Homo sapiens: one gene and its partner. The protein of the gene in region 1 interacts with the protein of each later gene in a pairwise test. Each region holds a gene or a part of one and is shown on either strand. Other genes may lie near its edges.

The links.
Region 2: the proteins of RNF144A (region 1) and USP32 interact in a two-hybrid assay, tested with the Homo sapiens proteins (one large-scale study listed by BioGRID).

The regions. Positions count from the first base shown.
Region 1 is NC_000002.12:7,011,218-7,015,048, reverse strand, and holds part of RNF144A (E3 ubiquitin-protein ligase RNF144A), read right to left. Parts: intron 596-3,831; coding exon 491-595; intron 338-490; coding exon 277-337; intron 1-276. UniProt on the Homo sapiens protein: E3 ubiquitin-protein ligase which accepts ubiquitin from E2 ubiquitin-conjugating enzymes UBE2L3 and UBE2L6 in the form of a thioester and then directly transfers the ubiquitin to targeted substrates.
Region 2 is NC_000017.11:60,206,899-60,210,729, forward strand, and holds part of USP32 (ubiquitin carboxyl-terminal hydrolase 32), read right to left. Parts: intron 2,646-3,831; coding exon 2,472-2,645; intron 1,931-2,471; coding exon 1,756-1,930; intron 1,313-1,755; coding exon 1,161-1,312; intron 235-1,160; coding exon 123-234; intron 1-122. UniProt on the Homo sapiens protein: Deubiquitinase that can remove conjugated ubiquitin from target proteins, such as RAB7A and LAMTOR1.

The DNA of each region.
Region 1 (3,831 bases):
TCAACTTTAAGCCTCCCCCAGGAGCCTCAATCCTTATAAACAAATTGTGTTCCATAAATTCTTCCTGCTACCAAATAGATCACTAGACAAGGTCTTCAAACTGTGAGCTGTTCAGAGAATCCAGAATGTCAGTTTAATTTCAGAAGTTTATTTTACATCAACTTTTTAACTCCTATCAAATGCTGTATAACCATATCTACCAAAAGAACTCCCCACAAAATTATCCACATTCACACATTACAGGAATCATAACCGGCAGATATACCAGGCACCTACCTCTTTCAAATTGTAGCTTTTTATATCTTTGCATAATTTCAGCTGCAACCATGCACTCAATCTAAGGGAAAAAAAAATGCAAACAGGAATGATAACAAGCTGAGGGCTAGAATATAATGCAACGCACACCCAAACAAAACCCACGTTATTCTGACAAGTTCAGCAGTGCACGCCTGTGCACATCAAACAGCCCAGTCTGTTCAATTGCACATGCCTCGTTCTCCTGTAGGTGGCCCTGTTTAGGGCAGGCAGCATCTGGGCAGCTAATTGCGGTTTCTAATCCTTCTTTGATCAAGAGCTCAACATACTGTTTCAGGCACTGAAAGAAAAACAGAGAAGTGTCTATAAACATCTTTACCTCCTTAATGCTGAAGAAACCATGATGCATTAAAAAAAGGACCAGGCACATCATTCCATTACAGTTTAATATTTTCACTGTGTAGTCCACAGCAACCAACACATTTGAGGTTTTGAGGTTTTATTCATTCAACAACTATTTATGGGGTACCCATTCTGTGCCAGGGACTGTATGCTCAATCACAAAGCTAAGGCTATGGGTTAGATCCCGGCACAAAACCTCAGCAAACACAAGAGCCAAGAATTCTAAAAGCAAGATGAAAGGCAGCAAGGGAGGCTGGGAGGTAATATTTCTCAAATGCCTATAAGATGCAGGCACTGCATTAAATATTTTATCTCTCAGTCTTTCACTGAAGCCTTAGAGCATTTTTACAAGAAAGGTATGACTGTTCCATTTTTCATATGTGAAAACTGAGTCAGCAAAGGAGGAAGTTGCCAACTTACACAAATAGTACCCAGAGCCTCGATGTGAACCCAAGCTTGCTCAGACAAAATGCCCATGATCTCCCTGCTGAGAACCCAACTGTATTTGGCATTCCTCACTCAGGGTGCCTCACTTACCAGGCAATTACTCACTACCTACCTTACCTACTTGGGGGCACTGCTTAAAGCCTGAAGTAAGCAAAACAAGAAGAAGTGAAGGACATGAAGTAGAGTTAATATAAAAGATTCTGTGGTCTTCACTCCTGCTTTACAAAGTCTACTAGTCTTAGAAATCTAGTGTTTCCCTGAAAAGCATATTATAAACAGCAATGAGAAGAAACAATACGGCCTTTGCCAGCTAGGCTCACTACCAAGAGAAACTAGATGTAGAGCTTATATAAGAACTCAAAGAGCATAGAAAATGATGTAAAATCCTACAACGGCATCCCCAAATCAACTTTAATCACAGTCCCAGTATATTTAAAGTTCATATTAGCAACAATATATAATATTACAATACCATTATTAAAATATAATAGCAATTAATCAAGAAAAATTAATAAGCTATGTTTGCTGAGCTGACATCTCCCCGCAAAAACGTATAATCCATTTTATTACAAGAATGCATGATTATTACTAATGAATGGGTCTAAATGGAAATTCAACTGCAATTCCTTCTACCTCCATGTTTAGAACAAGCCTATTAATCTCTCTCTACCATCCTTATTTTCCTGATCTGCAATTTAGGGTGGTTTAACCTACCTCACAGTGGAGTTGTAAGAATATTAGGCAAGTGAAAAAGTATAGAAGAATACACAGAGAAGAGTATATGCTTGATATATAAAGAATAATTTGATCTAAACTGGTAATTCTCCCCATCCTAGCAAAATAGAATATTTCATTCATTGAAGACTCCAGATTGCAATTTCTTTAAAAAACAAAAATCAAGGCAATCCTCAGAAAGAGCCACTTCCCAAAGCTTTTCTCAAGAGCTGTAACTTCAAGTACAAATTACAATGTTGGTGGCTCCACACTGAACCCTGTGTTCCAGCCTGTGTTCTTTTGATCTGCCTGGGCTCTGATGATTGCAGTGGCCCTAAACTTAGGTTTTCACAGATCATCTACATTTTACCAACCTATGGTTTATGAAGACATTTCCCAGAGTAGTGAGTATGGACGACCCCAGGCTTGGAGTTCTACGTGAGACTCCAGATGGCAGAATTTTCAGAGATAAATTCATTAAAACCAATGCAAAGACTTCTTTCAGAACAAGGGAGAGGCAGATGATGAGCAAGAGAGGAGTCACACCCAGCCTCCAGCAGGGCTGCAGCCTGGTTCTGGGAACCATCCGCAGACGTGTTAAGTGGCAGTGGCGCTGCGGACTACTAGAGTGGTGAACCATTGTAACAATGAGCAGAACAGTTGGCAGATCAGTGGAACTTTCTGTTTATGATTGGGTGCCACATGACAAGGGAGAAAGATTGTAGGCTTCAGAGCCAGACAGGCTCAACCAATCCTTGTCCCTCAAGTCAGAGTTTGAGCAACAGCTCCCTTGACAATAAAACCAGAATGCCCATCTCCCTGCACTTGACAATAAAACCAGAAGGCCCATCTCCCTGCACTTGACAATAAAACCAGAAGGCCCATCTTCCTGCGCTGTTGTGACAGTAATCTATGAAAGCACCTGGCATAATTCCTGGTAGACAGCACCAGCTAAGTAAATAGTGGCTGTTGTCTCTTTTTTGTCTACTTACGTGATTTGTCTCTTACAGTTATAGGTATTTAAAAATCCCAAAACCTTAGCAACAAGATCATTATTTTACTTTCTATTATGAAGTTTGTCTAAATGGGGTCTCTGGAGGATACTGGAGTGCGTTAAACCAATATACGATGCTGAAGACTCTCAGGATATTGTGCGGATCAGTATATAATGATAAAACATGACGCATCCTAAGAAGCAAAATACAACAATTAAAAGTGGCATGAAGCGTACACCCATATGCAACAAGTAGTGAGTCATGTCTGGGTTTCAAAGCTACCCAAGAGTGAACATCATGTGTCATCAGGATGCAGCTATCTGTACAATCTGCAAAAGGATTATGTTCTGGGAATATCAATTTGTTCACTACATAAAGAGAGATGACGTTCCAAGCGCCTGACCTTGCATCCATCAAAAACAAGCCCAGCTTTCTTCCAGATATAAAGTGGGTCATGACTCACAAGCTATGGTTTTCATTCTAATTGCAAAAAGATGTCTTGAAATGAGCACAAAAATAGGTAAACAGAGAAACTTCTGTAAAATACACAGCCTAAAAGCAGATACTGACACATTTTCCTACTACTGCACTCATTATAGATAGCAGTAGACAAATGCTTTCTAAGTCCTAGATTCTACGTGAATTGCATTACCTATGTTAGCTCAGTAAACATGCACAAAAGTCATATGGCGTGTTACCATGCTCACATGACAGATGAGAAAACCAAGGCTCAGAGACATCAACAACAGCTCAATAGAAGCACTAGGGCTCAAACCCACATGTGGCTGATTCCAAGGCTGGTGAGGTTTTATGTTTGTCTGTTGTACATTTTTTGTATACTTACTCCTCAATTGAAAACTTTTACATGAGCCAGTTTAGAGATATAACATACAACATGAGGACTAACTTTAATACAATTGTATCATATCAGGGATTGTTAGTAAGTGAGTAGACTTTAGGTGCCCATCACCGTAAAAAGCAACTATGTGAGATGATGAATACGCTGAGCTGCTTCACT
Region 2 (3,831 bases), on another chromosome or scaffold:
CCTTGGGTTCCAAAATTCTTCTGCTATAATATCCTCAGCATGAACAAATATAAAAAAGATGACAACTCTTAGACAAATATTTAAAGGAGCAATCATGAGAAGGAGTTCTAGTTCTATCTTACCTGTCTGTGTTGGACTAGAAGCTGAAATTGGAGACACAGGGACAGGAATTTCAAATGCACACAAAAATCCACTCACTGAGAGTCGTACTTTTTGGTTGTCCTGAGGAAAGTTCTACAGAAACAGAAGCAAGATGAGAAGGGGGAGATGTTTCAGATAAAATGGAAAAGTTCTCTCTCTAACATATTTCAAAAGAATGTCTTAGGCGCTTTCATCCGTAAAACCAACGAGATGATTGAATAATTTTTCAACTACATAAAGGATGAATGCTTGATAAAAATAACGGAAAACTAACCTCAATTTTCGAACTATTATCTCTTTTCACAGGAAGAAGTGTGTTATATACGACTGACTTCAGTTTTGTCCGTTTCAGGGATCTAAATTCCAACCCTCAGAGACTCCATTTTTGCATTTCATATTAAGAAACTGTCAGTGAGGTGAGAGTGTGTTCAGAAATCCCAAAGATGAATATAAATAATACCAGTTGCAGGAGCTTAATTTAGAGTAGGCAATATATTTATTAGATTATTTGTTTCCCCAGCTGGTATGTAGAAAGACATGATTGGTGTCAATTTGTCTTTACTCTTAATTTCTTAGTGTGTTAAAAGACCAAGTATATATATTCATAAATACTAAAAACACACATTCATAAATACATAAAATACTTTAACCTAGGAAGAATTCTAGTAACAGCGGTAATACAGAAGAGTTGTCAAGGGTAATAGCAGCAGTCTTTGGTAACAGCAGCAGTCTTTGGTGGAAACCTATACTATAGTGACACAGCTAGAACACTCCATATAGGCAGCCTTACGTATTTCCCTTCTTCAAAAATACCACCATCAGTATTATCCCTTTATTCTGGTAGAAAACTCTTAAGTTTCTGGGTTGGAAAACTTGGCATTTTTTGTTGTTGTTGTTCAGTTTTCGTTATGTTTTAGTATCTCTCTTGGTCACATAACCTAACAATTGATCATAATAATTGAGAAAAATGTCATCTTTGGAGGATAGAATCAAAAGTTTCTTAGAGTAGTTAATATTACCTTTATGTTGGAACCATGTACTTCTGCTAGAAGGATTTGTTCTGAATTAAGTCCACAGAGATCACTCAGCTGTTTTTTTAAACCTGTGTACTTTTCATCCATATTCAGTCTTAGTCCATACCGTACAGGGGTAGTACCATCTAACTTAATCACTAGTAAAGAGAAAAGATCTTTTATTGGTAAAATGCAGGTTTCATTGAAAGTCTTAAATGCTGTGTACAGATATATCTGACCTGTAAATATAATAGCAAATATTTCAGCCTAGAATTTTTATTTTATGTGTAAACACTAAAACAGATGGTACTTAGGGATAATATTAAGTGAAATCAGTATTTTTTTGGTGTTCATCTGACATAAAAGTATCAGTGGCTTTGCAGGGTTTTAAAGAGAGTTGCTGGCATATTTGAAACCAAAAAAACATGCCCCAGTCTACATCTTTCAAACCTCAAGTCATGCCTAAAATTAGGTTGCTCAATTATAATATGCTGACTACCGGTCTTTATTTGTAAACAAATAACTATGCTTACAAATTCAGGCTATTTAAATAAAGTAAATTTAATGGAGTCAAGTAATTTTTCAGAACTTTCTGACCTACCTGTTATTTCTAAGTGCATATAACTGTCCATTGGTAGTGGCAAAGACAAAAAATTGAAAGGGTCAAATCGGACACTTATATGCCCACATGTCTTGCATTTTACTTGAGATCTTAGCTGCCCATGGAACAAATCCACAACAATTGATCTATTTCTTCTTAGATGGTTGTCCCAGGCCTAGCAATAAAAAAGATGAGAATTTTCTCTCAAAATCCAAAAGAGAAGCATTTCTATATAAATTCAAAGAAGCTAGTTAAATATATTGGATTTAAATGTAAAGAATATAATCCTTACTCTTCATTTAACATAAAATATTAAATTGAGATGGAAAATCCTATTTTTCATTTGTTCTTATCAAGGTAACAATGGTAAATATTAAAGTTATTTGTCCATTAACAAGTATAAAGCATGCCTATAGGTCACTGTATCCATTACTTTAGCAATTACGGGGACTCTTTAAATTCCACTGGATAATTATTCCTACATCCAGTCCCATAAAGTTTACAATATGAAATGGCAACAGTTTTCTATTTTCATTAAACGTATTTTTGTTTTGGCATTATTGCATAAGAATTAAGCACAGAAATAGAAATTCATTCATTTTTGCAGTAAAGTTCTGATCTCAGAATAGTTGAGTTTGCATTTAAGTTGTGCTACATGTATTTGTGGCCAGAACATTTTGTCTATTGCTTACATTAGAAACTCAAAACTGACAAACCTCTGCAGCTACTTCCCAGTCTGGTCGCCCATCACTGTCCTTCAGTTCCACATATGGCTTTTCATGGACTCGATTAAGATCTTCATGAAGACCATCCAAGAGAAAAGCCAGAAGTTCTTGGGAGTCCTGTTGCTGAAACCCATTAAACCTGGGAGCATATTTTGCTATGGTCCACTATAAATATAAGAGAAGTCACAGTCATTATTTCCTACCCATAAAATTTGGAATGAACATGTCCTATAATCCAATCAGAGCCATTGTAAGAAAATAAATAGTATAGTACTTAGTCTGCCTCTATTTCAACAAATATATTTTGGATAATCATGAAATCTTTTGAATCTTAATGTCAAATGACCCCCCCCAAAAAAAGAGAAGTATTTTGGCCAATACTGTGCAATACTGTGTCCTCAGTTCAGTATTATGTAAGCAAACTGTTCTTCAGGCACACAGATGTTATTTAAGACAGAAACATTAAAACAGCGTTTGCTCACATTGAAAGACATCCTGTTCTATAACGTTTTACATTTTTATATGCATATAAAATATGTATATTTTATAGGTACATAGTATATACATAACATATGCATAAAATAATGTGTATATAATAATACATAACATGTATAAAATAATATGTGTATACATTATTTTATATAATATAATGTTGTCTTCAACAATTACATTTTCTGGTCTTGTTGCATCCTAAATTTTATTAACTGCATTATATTATAGAATTATTTTGAGGATATAAATTAATTAGAATAGTGCCTGGCAAGAGGTAAGTAGTCAAATGTGTAGCTGTTATAGTTAATAATTTGTAATATAAAAAGCTTTTGCTTTGTATTTAAATAAAAATAATGAATAATCCTAACTTCACTAAAATCTACTACATCTGATATTAATATAAAACTTATATTCATTAGTTTCATTCATTCATCCTTCTACTTTTTTTTTTTCTTTTTGGAGACAGAGTCTTACTCTGTTGCCCAGGCTGGAGTACAGTGGTGCGATCTTGGCTCATTGCAAACACCACCTCCCAGGTTCAAGCGTTTCTCGTGCCTCAGCCTCCCAAGTAGCTGGGATTACAAGCATGCACCACTATGCCCGGCTAATTTTTTTTAGTAGAGACAGGGTTTCGCCATCTTGTCCAGGCTGGTCTTGAACTCCTGGCCTCAAGTGATCCACCCACCTCGGCCTCCCAAAGTGCTGAGATTACAGGCGTGAGCCCCTGCGCCCAGCCTACTTCTTTGTATTCTACAGATAGAACTATCTTAGTTACGTTGAAAATGGATTGGATTGGATGTAATTAATAAGACTCTGAGGTCCACCTTGCAGTTAGAATACTGCTAATAGTGAAGTATTA